Regions from separate parts of the Homo sapiens genome. Here region 2 is linked to region 1. The links come from fine-mapping of genetic effects on gene expression. Tissue or cell type: whole blood. Region 1 holds a variant in brackets; the other region holds the start of a gene. All regions are shown on one strand. Distances are from middle to middle.

Evidence for each region. PIP is the estimated chance that this variant, and not a neighbour inherited with it, causes the effect.
Region 2: FUZ starts here. The variant in region 1 is fine-mapped to the expression of FUZ in whole blood (INTERVAL, PIP above 0.99).

What each region holds. Positions count from the first base shown.
Region 1 is chr19:49,857,405-49,865,404 of GRCh38, forward strand. It overlaps PTOV1 (PTOV1 extended AT-hook containing adaptor protein), which reads left to right. Exons shown (of 12, transcript NM_001394010.1): 7 at 289-378; 8 at 500-573; 9 at 653-710; 10 at 1,145-1,249; 11 at 2,582-2,779; 12 at 2,864-3,338. The coding sequence ends at 2,875. It overlaps PNKP (polynucleotide kinase 3'-phosphatase), which reads right to left. Exons shown (of 17, transcript NM_007254.4): 4 at 7,723-8,000; 5 at 6,920-6,999; 6 at 6,775-6,832; 7 at 6,560-6,667; 8 at 6,285-6,356; 9 at 5,286-5,334; 10 at 5,134-5,204; 11 at 4,967-5,059; 12 at 4,781-4,877; 13 at 4,640-4,701; 14 at 4,368-4,477; 15 at 4,204-4,291; 16 at 4,045-4,106; 17 at 3,800-3,961. The coding sequence ends at 3,844. PTOV1-AS2 (PTOV1 antisense RNA 2) reads right to left here and starts at 1,885. Exons shown (of 5, transcript NR_110730.1): 1 at 1,802-1,885; 2 at 1,439-1,693; 3 at 1,150-1,222; 4 at 943-1,023. The variant C/CG (reference allele first, on the strand shown) is at 3,594.
Region 2 is chr19:49,809,373-49,817,372 of GRCh38, forward strand. It overlaps FUZ (fuzzy planar cell polarity protein), which reads right to left and starts at 3,920. Exons shown (of 11, transcript NM_025129.5): 1 at 3,624-3,920; 2 at 3,243-3,364; 3 at 2,879-2,963; 4 at 2,259-2,327; 5 at 1,991-2,095; 6 at 6-203. The coding sequence starts at 3,734. It overlaps LOC105372435 (a long non-coding RNA gene), which reads left to right. Exons shown (of 2, transcript NR_187900.1): 2 at 1-454. RefSeq lists a silencer at 1-124 and enhancers at 3,791-4,597, 3,984-4,223, 4,434-4,483.

The DNA of each region.
Region 1 (8,000 bases):
TGGAAGGCCCTGCCTGGTAACCACGTGTCCTGGTCATGCCTTGCCAGTTGAGGCAGACTCTGCAGGTCCTGTGCACCAGGTGAGGGCCGGGACCTGTCTCAGGCCACTGGGGAGCCATGGGGGGCTGTGAGCAGATGAGGGGCAGGGCCTGTTCCCCTGGGACTAGAGAATGGACCCAGCTGGGGCTAACAGGCCAAGGCTCGGAGGGAGGGATGGCAGGCCCCAGGACAGACAGACAGGTTTCCCAGGAGCCTGGGCCCCTCTTCCCACCCCGTTCCCTTCCAACAGGCAGTGGGACCTGGTGGTGTCAACTCAGGCCCAGTCCAGATCGTCAACAACAAGTTTCTGGCATGGAGTGGTGTCATGGAGTGGCAGGAGGTGAGCACTCGGCAGCCCAGGGACTTGGGACCCCCAGATCCTCACGGACTGTGGCTGGGAGGGGACACTGGCATTGGGGGTCTCCAGCCCTGAGGGCTCCTCTTTGCCTCTCCCCCAAAAGCCCAGGCCTGAGCCCAACAGTCGGTCCAAGAGGTGGCTGCCATCCCACGTCTACGTGAACCAGGGGGAGATCCTGTGAGTGCTGGGCTGGGGGGTGGAGGCAGCATCCAGGGGAGCTGGGGCTTCCTGACCCTCGTCCCTTTGTGCCCCACAGGAGGACCGAGCAGTGGCCAAGGAAGCTGTACATGCAGCTCATCCCGCAGCAGCTGCTGGTGAGGGGCTGGGGCCGGGTGCTGGAGCCTGCACGCAGTAGCTCTTCCAGAGGGCGGGGCTGGGGGCAAGAGCGCCTCCCCAGGTGGCCTGAGCTGGCTGTGAGGGAGCGGAGCTGAGGGTGCTGAAGCAGGTGTGGTGGGTAGCTCCTCAGGCTTGGCTTCAAGGGGTCCCAGGCAGCCAGCTGGTGGCTGTGCAGGGACTGAGCGGGGCAGGGGCAGCCACGACCTGCACCTGGGGGGCTGCCAAGGGATCTGAGAGCGGCTTCCACAGCACTCCAGGGTTGGGCTGGTTGAGCGGTGGAGATGACGTTTCCTGAGGTAGGGAGGACAGGGGAGTCTCAGTTTGGTCCTGGGCCCGGGGGACTCAGCGGGCTGGGAGCCGGGAGGCCGTGGTGGGAGAAGCCAGAGCTGGGGGTCCCCTCGCTTCCCCGCAGACCACCCTAGTGCCGCTGTTCCGGAACTCGCGCCTGGTCCAGTTCCACTTCACCAAGGACCTGGAGACACTGAAGAGCCTGTGCCGGATCATGGACAATGGCTTCGTGAGTGGTGCCAGCAGACGCAGGGGAGGGGCCGGCCAGGGCAGAGCGAGCCCGGACCGCTCACGGGGGCGGACATGGGAGAGGAACAGAGCACCATGTCCCAGACCAGCTGGGGAGAGAGGGTGGCTAGTGTGGGCGTGACTTCTGGGGGCTCTGTGCTGTCCCCACGGCACTGGATGGGGCACTGACCCTGGTTCTGCGGGGGCCTGCTCCTCCTCTGCCACATCAGGGCTGACTCAGCACCAACTCCGCGCTCTCCACTCCTCAGGGACAGGCGCCCTTGTCACTCCTGGTTTCCCGGGAGCTTGTGCCACATCCCAAAGGCCCATTGCTGGGCAGGGAGGGCTGTCTGCCCCCAGCAAGGTCCCAGAATATTTGGCGATTGTCTTATCTGGGGGAGGCTCAGCTGACTCCTCTTCTCTCTCTCGGGCTCAGTTTCTCCATCTGTGAGGTGGAGAAGGTTGGACTTTGGTGTTTCTGAGCCCTCCCCCCGATGTCCACCTTCCAGCTGGGCCATACTTGGGTAATATCCCGAAACTACCTTAAAATTACCTTCGACTCAGTCTGAGTAAACTGTCCACGAAGCTGTTCGTGGGTGGGGGGGGCCTGGGTGTAGGTGCTTTTACATGAAAGCAATTTCAAGCATTCCCTCAGGGGCCGGGTGCGGTGGCTCACGCCTGCAATCCCAGCACTTTGGGAGGCCGAGGCGGGTGGATCACCTGAGGTCAGGAGTTTGAGACCAGCCTGGCCAACATGGTGAAACCCCGTCTCTACTAAAAATACAAAAATTAGCCAGGCATGATGGCCACTCAGGAGGCTGAGTCACAAGAATGGCTTGAACCCGGGAGGCAGAGGTTGCAGTGAGCTGAGATCATGCCATTGTACTCCAGCCTGGGCGACAAGAGCGAAACTCAGTCTCAAAAAAAAAAAAAAAGTTTCCTCAAGGAAACCCAGAAAGGCTCCATGTACCTCAGCCCTTGCTTGTGCTGGGCCGGCCGCTGCAGATCCCTCGGGCTCCTGAGTTGAAGCCATGGCCGGTTGGCTCAGGTGGCTGTGGTGAGGTGGCCCCAGACACAGCCTGGCCTGCCCAGGAGCTCTGAAATGCAGGTTCTTGGGCCCTTCCCGACAGAGCCTGTTGGCCTTTGGCCCACCCATTGCTCTTGGCCACCGTGTCATCCCAATAAGGGGGCCCACCTCCAGGGTGGGTGGGGGGTGTGAGGACAGAGCAGTTAGGCTGTGCCTGGCTCATGGAGCCCACGGCATGATGCCGTGGTTGGAGGGATGCTGGTCCCTGTGGTGCTGTCTGGTGACACCACGCCCTGTGCCTGCCAGGCCGGCTGCGTGCACTTTTCCTACAAAGCATCGTGTGAGATCCGCGTGCTTATGCTCCTGTACTCTTCAGAGAAGAAAATCTTCATTGGCCTCATCCCCCATGACCAGGGCAACTTTGTCAACGGCATCCGGCGTGTCATTGCCAACCAGCAGCAGGTCCTGCAGCGGAACCTGGAGCAGGAGCAACAGCAACGAGGGGTGAGGTGGCCGGCCTCCAGGGCTGCTCAGTCTCCCTCCACCCCCGCTGCCTGCTCACCACTGGCCTCTGATTTCTCGCCGTAGATGGGGGGGTAGTGGTTACCCCGGGCTGGGCCCCTCCAGGAGTCACAGATGAGGCCCCCGCAGAGACTGGTGAGTGGTGACCCTGTCATGTACAGGAGGGACCCTGGGGCATGTGGGGGGGGTGGGGTTGGGAAAGAAGCAGGGCGACCTTGGCCTTGGGGAGAGCAGAGCAGAGGGAGAGGCAGCAGTCCCAGCGGTCCTAGGCTGTCGGGAAACTGCAGCCCAGCCTCAGGGCCATGGGAGGTGGTATCCAGGCCTGGGTGGGGCCAGGCCTCTGCTCACAGGGATGTGGGGTCAGTGCTTGGGAGCCTGTGGCCAGCAGCCCCCACTGCACCCCTGCCCCCAGGTGACACGCTTCTGAGCAGGGGCCCCTGGGGACTTCAACTGCCCAGCAACATGGAGGATGGTGTCCTGAGGCCTCCAAGGACGGTCCCCACCCCTCTACGTTTCCCCAATAAAGCCTTTTAAAAACCTGCCTGCCTTCTCTGCTCACTGCCCGATGCCTTGCAGCCCCCTAGCTCTAAGGTGGCCCAGCAGGCTGGACAGCCCGGGAACTCACTGGGTCTGGCTCTCGGCTGTCCACACCCTCTTCCCCCCCGAATCTCCAGACCCGCAGGCCTTGGGTTCAAGTTCAGTGTCACAGAACCTGAGCTGGATTTTGTCCTCAGGGGTCACACCTGGCCTTGAGCCAGCCCCTCGGTTGAGGCTCGTGGGCTCACCAGCTGGCTCT[C/CG]GGGGGGCCACACAGCGCCCTCCCTGTGTGTTCCCCGGCTAATGTCTAAAGTGCTCATGCCAGGTCCCAGCTGGACTCCCCTCGGTAGGGCCCCACCTTTTGTTACCTGAAAATGTCCTTAAAGCCTCCTCCATGTAAGAAACTGGCAGGCCTGGAGCCCCTCCCCCGTGGGGACCACCCTCCTTCCAGCAAAATGCCGGCCAAGCTCAAGGAGAAACAGCGTTTATTGTGGAGGGGAGCTGGGCGGGGCTCAGCCCTCGGAGAACTGGCAGTACAGCCGCCCCAGCCTCGGCTCCACCCATAGCCGGAACGGGATCTCCAGGATGGCAGAGAAGCCTTCAGCCAGCGTTGGGGCCTCGAACTGCTTCCTGGCAGTGGTGGGAACAGTGAGGGACAGCCTGGATCATGTGGCCCAGCCAGTGCCCCTGCCCCCTGCTATCCCCAACAGTACCTGTAGCCATACATGACCATGTCTGACACGGGGATATGAGAGGAGTCCGTCATCTCTCGAAACTGTGGGGAACATCAGAGGGGCGGCAGGCCCAGGGGTCAGGGGAGGAGGGGGGTCAGGGGGTGCAGCCCGGGGGGTGTCCGGGCTGAGCGGGCTCACCCGGTTGTTGTGGCGCGCCTGCTCCAGAGTGGCGGTGAAGAGGAAGCAGCGGCAGGGGACGCCCGCGGCTCGGGCACACTGGACGTACCTGTGGGGGAAGGAGCTGGATGTGCAGGCCCCGCCCACCCCGCCGCAGGCCACCTACGGCCCCGCGGTCACGCTACCTGGCGCGGCTCGCGGCGTCTGGGTTTGTGTTGTCGATGGCGACCCGTTTCCCTTGCTTCAGGGCTGTCTCACACGTGGTCACACAGCGCTGCCAGGAGCCTAGCGTGTCCTGGGGACACGAGAGGTCACAAACAGATCGGCAGACCCAGGGGGAGAGAAGACCCCGAGCGGGGACGGGGAGGCAATGATGGAGGAAAGCCGCCCCAAACCAGTTGAGAGGTGGAGATGGGAACTTTATAATAGATTTGGGGCGGCAAAAGCCTGGTCATACCCTGTTCACGTGGACATATCCGGCCGACACGAGGTGCTTCTTGAGAAAGGTGGACTTCCCGGCTGTGTGGGGGGCAGTGTCGGTGGGTGGCCTAGGACCCAGGCGGGGCTCAGGGCACGCGCACAGGAACAGGACACTTACCCCCAGGGAATCCCACTGCGACAACCACCTCCGGGCTGGCGCTCAGGAGGGCCCTGGACTCGGGGAGGCAGAGAGGCCCTGAGCGGGAGACAGTCCTCTGCGAGGGGCGGGGGACACGCGTGAGATGCCGTCCCCATCCCCGGGAGCCCTCCCATCCCCACCCCCACCCCCGCCCCAGGGCCTCACCGGATCAAAGGCTGGGAGCTCGAAGCCGGCTGCTGGCCACTTGAGAAAGAACTCCTCAGGCGTGGCGAAGGGCAGGCCAAGGTTGAGGGCAAACTAGGGGTTGAGGACGAACATCAGACACAGGCCAGGGTCGGGCTCGGGCGCGGGGCAGGGGGCAGGGGCCTCACCAGGCGATCGGCGCAGGAGAAGTCTTTCTTCTTCCGCCCCGGGGCCCAGTTGGCCGGGCGTCCGGCTGCGTCTGGAACACACGGGACACCCCGTTCCCACCAGCTCGGAGGGAGGCGTCCCAGCCCACCCTCAGCAGCCTCCAGGCCCTTACCTCCCACAAAGATGCTGTCCCCGATGGATATGGGCGTGCCGTCGTTGGCCTACGGGAGACGGTAGTGAGGAGGCCCTTCCCACAAATGTCCCCCCGCAGCGGTAGCGGGTCCCTGGGGCTGCTTCGCCTGGTCTGTGCCCCACATCAGGAATCATCCCCCGACCTTTCATGTCCTCACTCTCCAGCCACTTTGCACCGTGCTCCTGGCCCCCTCCCCCCTCCGTGGTCTCTCCACACAGCCCCCTCCCTCCAGGTCTCCCGACTTCACCTCCTCCCGTTCCCCACGCGGCCACCGGAGGGCACCCACCCTGCTACAGCTCCAGCCTCCGGCGTGCCGGCGCCTCCCAGGTTCCCCCTCCCTCAGGGCAAAAGCGGGGCCCTCCCTGTGGCCCTGCCCTCTCCCCTCCCTCGCTTAGAGCCAGCCGCATGGGCCTCGCTGTCCCTAACTAGCCCAGGCTAGGGACTGCCTCAGGGCCTTTGCACTTGCTGTCACTCCCACAAGGGGGGGGACCGCTTTCCCCAGGTGTCCACCTGGCTCCCTCCTTTCCCTGCCTTAGGCCTTTTCCTCTGATGTCACCTCCTCAGAGGCCATCCCTGCCCACCACGGGTGATGCCTGCTTTCTCCAGCTCCCTCCCTCCTGCTGTTTTACACGCCAGTCTGCCCATCCGCCTAGAGTCACCGCCCTCGCCGTGAGGGCCCTGCTGGAGCAGGCCGTCCCGCTCACTGATACCTTCAGCTCAAGAATGCGCTAAACTTCAGAACAAATGCACACACAAACGAATGAACGAAGGAATGAACAGCTTCCCTACTACTCTGATGTAGAAAGTCTGAAAGCACTGGTCTCGTAAACCAACATCTAAGATGTCACAGCAAAAAACAGAAGGAGGGAGCGAGAGAGGACAGAGGAGTAAGGAGGCCCCAACCGGAGGCCGGGGAGCCCAGGAGTGAGGGGCTGGAGTGAGGAAAAGGAGGGGGGCCGGGCAGGCTGCAAGACTCACCTGCTCCTGCAGATGGTCCCACATGCCCGTCACCGGCTTCCGGTACAAGCCTGCGTGCGTGGCCACCAGCACCTGTGGATGGGAGGGGGCCACCAGCTTTAGCTCCCCCTCAAGCACCTACTGGATGCCACCCCAGCCCAGAATTTGTAGCTGATGATGGGTTCCTATCAGCATCACACTGCCTGAGGCCTCCGCCCCGCTTACCCTGGAGTCTAAAGCCCTCGCTCTGGATCTCTGTGCCCCCACATAGCTCCCAGCCTCCCTTCCAGCCATACCTGGAAGGGGACCCCCAGCTTCTCCACCACAGCCTCCACCTTGGCCTTGAACTCCTCGGCTGGCAGCTTCCCGCGCCCGATGCTCATCTGGTTGGTGAAGATCACCAGCTGGGGAGCAAAGGGTGTCACCAGACGCTCTGCTCACCAGGGCCTTGGTCTGACTGCGGTCGGACCGCCACGTGCACGTGCCCATGCAGACAGGCGGCTGCACATACCTTGTAGCCCTCGGCTTCCAGCTCTCGGAGCTTACGGGGAATCTCTGGGTACAAGATCCTACGGCAGGTATGAAGCGGCAGGGGTGACCCGGGGCCAGAGGTGGACTCCAGGCCTCACTCACTCCCTTGTTTTGCCTCTTATCACCTCCAGTCACTGGGGCCAGTGGGAAAGACCTTCCCAGAGCGTGTGGTGATGAGCGTCCCGTCCAGATCAAAGCCAGCCACCTGGTGTCACCAAGGAAAGACAAACAGCAGCACTGTGATACCTCTGACCCTCCTCACTCACAGGCTGACTCACACCAACCCTGCCAGGCAGGGTGTTATCACTGCCATCTCACAGATGGGGAAACCGAGTCACAGAGCACCTCCATCTCAAGCATCCGTGATGCCTCTGAGTGGGGCCCGACATCTTAACCTTACTGTCTCCTGTTACTCCTTATGACGCCAGCCCCAGGATTACAGTCTTTAAAATGGGGGTTAATGTCTTACCCAGCCTCCTTCTTCCCCTGGCCTTCACCACCTCGGTGGGCTAATAACCGTGAAAATAAAAGCAGGAGCAAAGCTTTGGGTGCTAACTGCATGTCAGGAACTATGCCACGTGCTTTTTTTATGGATTCAGCATCGTAGAGATGAGACACATGGGACTCAGAATGTGGTGGTAACAGCATTTGAACTCAAGTCTCTCTGGACATAAAAAATCCTCATCGTAATAGCTCCTACTGAGACAGTCATGGTCATTGCTGATTACTGGGTGGTCACTGTGGGTAACGCAGGAGCTGACATATATCATTCTCCCCACTGCTTAACTGCTTACAACGATCCCTGCATTTATCATTAGGCCCATTTCTCAGAAAAGTAAGTAGAGGCTAAAAAGTTGAGAGCACGCAACAAACGTGGGATTGGGTCCCAGTCTGTGGCGGCTCCCTCAGCCCTCGGCGTGGCCCTCACCTTGCCCTGGGGTTTCACCCCAGCTGCGGTGAACACTAGCAACTTCTCCAAGTTCTCCCAGCCGGGGTTTGACTTCCGCATACGCTTCTTCGGCAGCTCAGCATCTCTCTTCTCATCTTGGGACACCAGAGGGGTGCCAGGCGGAGTATCTGGCTGGGATTCTGGTGTGCGGGTCTCTTCCCAGCGCAGGGTCAGTGGGTGGAGGCCATTGACCAAATACAGTGTGTCCCCCACCCCCAGAGAGCCCTCCAACCCCGGCTTCAACTCCTGGGTCCCGG
Region 2 (8,000 bases), 48 kb before region 1:
CTCACCGTGGGGCTCCCGTGCGGCAGGTACACCGGGTAGTCGCGAGCGGTCTGCGGCGGCAGGGACCCCACCAGCCAGGGGAGCAGCACGGCCTCGGGCGTCCCCAGCCGCCACCAACCCTCTGTTGCTGCCACCACCCGGCCGGACACCACCAGACTGACGAAGGTCGTGCCCGCGGCCTCAGCGAACCCGGAGAGGGCTTCCTGGGTACGGGAGGCAGGAGGACTGGGAGTCAGCAGACAAGCGTAGGGGGTGGCAGCGACTTCCCAGATGGGCAGGGAATGGGGAGAAACCCACAGCCAGCCCCGAGCTCGCGCAGTGGCCATGCTCCTACGTCTCACCCTCTCTGAGCCTGAGTTCCTTCACTTTCATACGAAGTCACATCCCCAACTCACACTGTGAAGTCTGTGAAATCTGATTAAACATCTAGCCTGGGCGGGCAAACTGAAGCTAATAATGTAACCGCAGCAGCTACCGTTCATCCAGGCCTGTTACATGCCGAGTAGGCACCATTAGCAACGTAGAGAAGCCAAGTCACCTGCTGAGAGTCACATGCCTGGGAGGCCGCCACACCAGGCAAGTCCACAAGAGCAGTATTTAAGTAGAGGTAGCTAGAGATCTGAGAGGCAGGAGGAAGAACATGCACTGAGGTTGGAAACTTGTTGGGATCTCAGGACTGTGAGGTAGCTGGGTGGAAGTAGACTGTGGATTTAGCAACAGGTTAGGGGGTGCCAGGTGCCACAGGCCTTCAAACACCAGGCTGAGGAGCTGGGACCTTGTCCTGGGGGAGGTGGAGGCTGCCGGAGGGCTGTGAGCAGGAAAGGGGCAGAGCCAGCTCTGGATATAGTAGGGTTCTTCTGGTGGCCGGGTGTGATGGCTCACACCTGTCATCCCAGCACTATGGGAGGCTGAGGCGGGAGGACTGCTTGAGCCCAGGAGTTCGAGACCAGCCCGGGCAACTTAATGGAAACCCATCCCCAACCCTAGTCCATCTCTTAAAAAAAAAAATAGCTGAATGTCAGCCGGGCGCGGTGGCTCATGCCTGTAATCCCAGCACTTTGGGAGGCTGAGGCGGGTGGATCACGAGGTCAGGCGTTCAAGACCAGCCTGGCCAACATAGTGAAACCCTGTCTCTACTAAAAATACAAAAAATTAGCTGGGCCAGGCGTGGTGACCAGCGCTTATAATCCTAGCTACTCGGGAGGTTGAGGCAGGGGAATCGTTTGAACCCAGGAGGCAGAGGTTGCAGTGAGCCAAGATTGCGCCATTGCACTCCAGCCCCTGTGACAGTGTAAGACTCTGTCTCAAAAAAAAAAAAAAAAAAAAAATAGCTGAATGTGGTGGCACAGTGCCTATAGTGTCAGCTACTGGGGAGGCTGAGATGAGAGGATCACTTGAATCCAGGAGTTCAAGGCTGCAGTGAGCTATGACTGAGCCACTGTGCTCTAGCCTGGATGACAGAGCAAGACCCTGTCTCAGAAAAGAAAGAAAGATGGCCCAGGCGCAGTGGCTCACGCCTGTCATCCCAGCACTGTGGGAGGCCAAGGCAGGTGGATCACCTGAGGTAAGAAGTTCGAGACCAGCTTGGCCAACATGGTGAAACCCTGTCTCTACTAAAAATACAAAAAATTAGCCGGGCGTAGTGGTGGGCGCCTGTAATCCCAGCTGCTCGGGAAGCTGAGGCAGGAGAATTACTTGAACCCGGGAGGCGCAGGCTGCAGTGAGCCGAGATGGTGCCATTGTACTCCAGCCTGGGCAACAAGAGTGAAACTACGTCTCAAATAAAAAGAGAGAAAGAAAAGAAAAAAGAAAAGAAAGAGAAAGAAAAGAAAAAAAAAAAAGAAAAAAGATTCTTCTGGGACCAGGTGGGGATAGGACTGGAAGCTGAGAGGATAGGAGGAGGTTGGGACAATGGTCCAGAAGAAAGAGGATGAGGACTGAGCCAGGGCCAGCAGAACAGGTGTAAGAGTTTCCATAGCATCCCCAGTACCTGCAAGAGGGACCCCTCTGGAGGAATCACGCAGTCCACACACTGGGTCAGGTCCCCGATGAGCTCCGAGTCCCCCAGGAAGCTGTCGATGAGGCAATAACTGGCCTAGGAGAGGAAGAAGGGACCAGCCTAGGATTCAAGTGGGCCCAGGGTCAGACAACCAAGAACCTGTGGGACCAGGCTGCCCCAGGGGCTGCTGGGAACTGTAGTTCCCAAATGGCAGTGCCCAGGTATCCTAACTTCCCACCCTCATGTCCTGCAACCTCACCCTCAAGTCCTTCTTCAGTCTCTCCACGTTGCGGATATTGGTCAGTTCTTCAAGTCCCACAAGAAGGACCTAGAAGAATCATATAGGAGAGGATGGGCGAGGGGCTGGGACTTGAACTCCTGGGTCTGAAGGAAGAGGGGGCTGGGACTCCCACTTCTGGGTCTGGGGACTGGGGAGTCAAGATTCCTGGGTTCTGGCCGGGCGCGGAGGCTCATGCCTGTAATTCCAGCACTTTGGGAGGCCAAGGTGGGTGGATCACTTGAGGTCAGGAGTTTGAGACCAGCCTGGCCAATATGGTGAAACCCCGTCTCTACAAAAAATACAAAAATTAGCTGGGCATGGTGGCACGTGCCTGTAATCCCAGCTACTTGGGAAGCTGAGGCACGAGAATCGCTTGAACCTGGGAGGCAGAGGTTGCAGTGAGCCGAGATCAAGCCACTGCACTCCAGCCTGGGCAACAGAGCGAGACTCCGTCTCAAAACAAAACAAACAAACAAACAAAAGATTCCTGGGTTCTGAGGAAGGAAGTGTTGGTGGTCTGCACTCCTAGGTCTGAGGGAAAAGGATGCTGAGATCTCAGATTCCTGGTCTGGGGAGAAAAGAGGACTGGTGAGTCTCACCATGGCTCCAAACACCATTTGGAGTAGTCTCTCCAGCCTCAGCTCAGAGATGCCCACCTCAGATGACAGAACAATGAGGGTGATGCTGTGGAATGGAAGTGAGAAGAATGAGTCAAGGCCTGGGGAATCAGGAAGGGGTATGTTGGAGTCCGCCCATTGATCCTAGAACACCAGATACATCCTCTCTCAGACCAACCTGCCTTTCTTATAGAGAACATCAGGGATCAAAGAGGGTAACTGGCTTGCTAAAGATCCCATAGCCAAATTAACAGCTGCTTTTAGAGAGCTGGAAGGCCTCCGGGGTCATCTTCAACAGGGACTATCACCCAGGCCCTGTCCCTGTCCCACGTTCCCTCCTGGGGACCTGTCATGGAAGCTTTTCCACACCACAGTCGTGTTCTCGGTCCTCGCAGAGCTCAGCTGCACCTCCAGATTCTGCCCAAACATGTGGACTCCATTGAGGGAACCGATGACAGAGAACGGGAGCTAAGGAGGGGTTAGGGACATCAGACAAGAGCACCCCCCCATCCCCTTCCCCCTTAGGACCCAAGTGTGCCAGCTCCCAGCCCCATCCTCTTTCCATATGACCTGGCAGTGCCTCTTTGGGGAACCAGGCTTATTGGTCCATTGCCTCCTCGGTCCTACAAATTCAACACTGAAACTTCCCCAGCCCCTACTGCCTTGAAGACCCAGAGTCAAAACACCGAACCCCCTTCGGTTTAGATACAGGCGTCCAAGGCCCCACCTGCTGACGGGCGGGGGCGCCGCCGCGACTGCTCCTGCAGAATAGGGGGACCCCGCTGGAGGCCGCGAGGCACAGCAGATGCACAGTGCCGCCCGTCCCCTCCTCCCCCATTTAGGACTCCCACCGCGGTCCCTCACGTGGGGACTGTCAGTGCGGGTCTTGGAGCATGGCGGTAATCAGAGTAACTCGGCCTGTGGTCCGGAGCCGCCAGAGGGCGAGATGGGGAGCTGATTGGAAGAGGATTAACTTCCCGCCTTCTTCACCCAACTCAAACAGACCCTCAAACCCTATTCAGGCACCTCCCCCAAACCCATTAGGTTCTCTTCCGCCCTAGCCGGAAGTCACGGTACCCCTAACAAAGATGGCGGCAAATTGAATTTGCAAAGCTTTCTAGTTTCTCCGAGGAGGTAAAGAGAACCAAGAAGCCGGATTGAAGATGATGACTGCGCCAAGGCGTTGCCTAGCCACCATCCTGTAGGCTTTGATGATTTACATTCTAAACGGAAAAAACAGCTGTGCCCGGATCAAAGATTGCGATGGTCCCAAAGCATTGCCTAGCAACCACATTCCCTGTAGGTTTCCAGTATATAGTAGTAAACAATGTGCCCTACTCAAAGATGGCGACCGTGGCGGGGCGTTGCCAAGCAACCACCATTCAGCCTGATATCCATTCCAAGGCTGTAAACAGCTGTGCCCTGCTCAAAGATGGCGGCACGTCGAAGTCCGAGCACCCTCCTTGGGGCGAAATCGAGAAAAACACCATCTCCCCTACAACCTTCGAGGGTGGTTGAGTCCAGCGATCGTTGCCTAGTAACCACTAAAAAAAAGGTTGTTTTTGTTATTAGAAAAAAGAAAACAAGGAAATCCTTTATTTTCCAGAATAATAAAAATAATATCATTTCTGTAATGAATTTATACATGATAGCATACCATGTAAAATGTGAAAAATCCCTTCCCCAATTTTTTTCCTAAAATACAGTTTAACGTAGACTATTCATACGTTTTCACAAAGATGATCAATATACTAACATTTCCACACTTTCTTTTTTGCCATGAAAAAGTATGTCTATTTCATCTTAATAATGTATTTTTATAATCTATTTTATGGATGTGACAAATTGATTTGACCAATTCTGTATTGATGTACATTAGGTTGTTGAACTCCTCCAGACTAGCCAACTAGTGCTGGGACAGCATTTTACTGACTTTTTAAAATGCCCTTATGAATATTTTTATTATTTTACACAGGCAGCATTTACTTGTAATGACAAAAGTATTTATGATTCATTTTTCCCTTCCTCTTCCTTCTTGCAGATCAGCCCATCTTTCTAGCATAATTTTTAATTTTCCTACTTCCTAAAGTACATCTTTTTCTCTTTTTTTTTTTTTTGGGAGAGGGGACAGGGTCTCGTTCTGTCGCCCAAGGTGGAGTGCAGTGGAACCATCTCGGCTAACTGCAACCTCCGCCTCCAGGATTCAAGCGATTCTCCTGCCTCAGCCTCCTGAGTAGCTGGGATTACAGGTGTGCCCCCACCACGTCCAGCTAATTTTTGTAGTTTTTGTGGAGACAGGGTGTCGCCATGTTGCCCAAGCTGGTCTCAAACTCTTTGGCTCAAATGATCCACCCACCTCAGCCTCTCAAAGTGCTGGGACTACAGGCAGGAGCCACCATGCCTGGCCTAGGTACCATTTTAATCTTCCTTCTTGCCTATTGATATTTTTTTTCCTTTCTCTGGATTACTTTTATCTTCCTTACAACTTTATTAAAATGTTAGTTACACAGGCATAAAAGAGGGGGCTGCTCTAGATGAAAAGAAACTTGAGACATAATGTCTAAATATGTGTGTGGTCTTTGTTTGGATCCTGATACAAATAAACCAACTGTAAAAACACATTTTGAGACAATTGGAACGTTTGATTACACACTTACTGTTGGATGATACTAAGAAGTTAATTTTGTTACAGGTAACAATGGCATACTAGTAATGTAAGAAAGTGTTCATAAAATTGGAAAGATGCCTGCCAAGCACACAGGAGTAAAATCATATGATTGTATGGATTTGAAGGCTTCAGCAGGCCAGGCGCGGCGGCTTACGCCTGTAATCCCAGCACTTTGGGAGGCCAAGGTGGGCGGGTCACCTGAGGTCTGGAGTTCGAGACCAGCCTGACCAACATGGAGAAACCCCGGCTCTACTAAAAATACAAAATTAGCTGGGCGTGGTGGCGCATGCCTGTAAACTCAGCTACTCGGGAGGCTGAGGCAGGATAATCGCTTGAACCCAGGAGGTGGAGGCTGCCGTGAGCCGAGACTGTGCCATTGCACTGCAGCCTGGGCAACAAGAACAAAACTCCATCTCAAAAAAAAAAAAAAAAAAAAAGCTTCAGCAAATGAGACTGTCTCAAAAAAAAAAGGGCTTCCGCAGGCTCACTGCCTATAATCCGGGCACTCTAGGAGGCCAAAACGGGTGGATCACCTGAGGTCAGGAGTTTGAGACCAGCCTGGCCAACATGGTAAAACCCTGTCTCTAACAAAAATACAAAAATTTGCCTGCGAGGTGGCACACACCTGTAGTCCCAGCTACTGGGGAGGCAGAGGCAGGAGAATCGGTGGAACCAGGGAGGCAGAGGCTGCAGCGAGCCGACACTGCGCCACTGCACTCCAGTCTGGGCGACAGAGCGAGATTTTGTCAAAAAAAAAATAATAAAATAAAAAAAAATAAAAATAAAAATAAAAGATAAAAGAAAAATAGAAACCCAATAAAAAATAATTTTAAATGATAAAGGTAAAAACCTTTATCATTAGGCTTTCTGTAAGTACTTTTCAATTGGTGATTATTATTATTATTATTACTTTTTTTTTTTTGAGACAGCGCCTCGCTCCGTCCCCCAGGCTGGAGTGCAGTGGCGCGATCTCTGTTCACTGCAAGCTCCGCCTTCCGGGTTCACGCCATTCTCCTGCCTCAGCCTCCGGAGTAGCTGGGACTACAGGCGCCCGCCACCACGCCCCGCTAATTTTTTTTTTTTTTTTTTTGGATTTTCAGTAGAGACGGGGTTTCACCGTGTTAGCAAGGATGGTCTCGATCTCCTGACCTCGTGATCTGCCCGCCTTGGCCTCCCAAAGTGCTGGGATTGCAAGCATGAGCCACTGCGCCCGGCCTGTTTTTTTTGTTTTTTTTGTTTTTTTTTTGAGACAGTCTCGCTCTGTCGCCCAGGCTGGAGTGCAGTGGCGTGATCTCGGCTCACTGCAACCTCTGCCTCCCGGGTTCAAGCGATTCTCCTTGCCTCAGCCTCTCGAGTTGCTGGGATTACAGGTGGGCACCACGACGCCCAGTGATACTGACCTCGTGATGCGCCCGCCTCTACCTCCCAAAGTGCTGGAATTACAGGCATGAGCCATCTCGCCCGGCCGAAGATTATGTTTTAAAATATTTACTGGCCATTCAAAATTTTGTGTGTGTGTTTGTGTGAAACTAGTCAGGTTTCTTTTTATTTATTTATTTTTATTTTTTTTGAGACGGAGTCTAACTCTGCCGCCCAGGCTGGAATGCAGTGGCACAATCTCAGTTGACTGCAACCTCCGCCTCCCGGGTTCAGGAGAATCTCCTGACTCAGCCTCCCAAGTAGCTGGGATTACAGACGCCCACCAGGACGGCTAATTTTTTTATTTTTAGTAGTTAGAAGGAGTTTCACCATGTTGGCCAGGCTGGTCTTGAACCCCTTACCTCGGGTGATCTGCCCGCCTTGGCCTCCCAAAGTGCTGGGATTACAAGCGTGAGCCACGGCGTCCGGCCCTGGTCAGGTTTCTTTCTATTAAAACAAATATAAAGTGGCAGGGCACGATGGCTAACACCTGGGATCGCTTTAGCCGAGGAGTTTGAGACACGCCAGAGCAACACAGTGAGACCCCATCTCTACAAAAAATTTAAAAATTAGCTGGAAGTGGTAGTGCGCGGCTGTGGTCCCAGCTGCTCCACAGGCTGAAGAGTGGCTCCAGTGCGAGTAGAGGCTGCCGTGAGCCAAGATTGGGCCACTGCACTTCAACCTGCACAACAGAAAGAGACCCTGCCTCAAAAAATAAAAATTAAAATTAAAAGATAATAGTAATGAAGTGTTTCTATTTTTCTATATTGTTATTCATCAGTAAGATTTATTTGCGTAGTACATTTCTGTCAACAAACACGCTAGAAAGATTTTCCCAGTTGGCCGTATATTTTTCAACTTGGTTTATACAGTCTTTTGGGAAAAATTAATGAAGACTACGTTTTCTAACTTTGCTGTAGTGCTAAGAAACTCCATGGCAGTCATTAAGATTTTTTCCCTTCAGATAGTTTTCGGGTTTCATTTGTTGCACTTACATTTTTAATCCACCTGGAATGT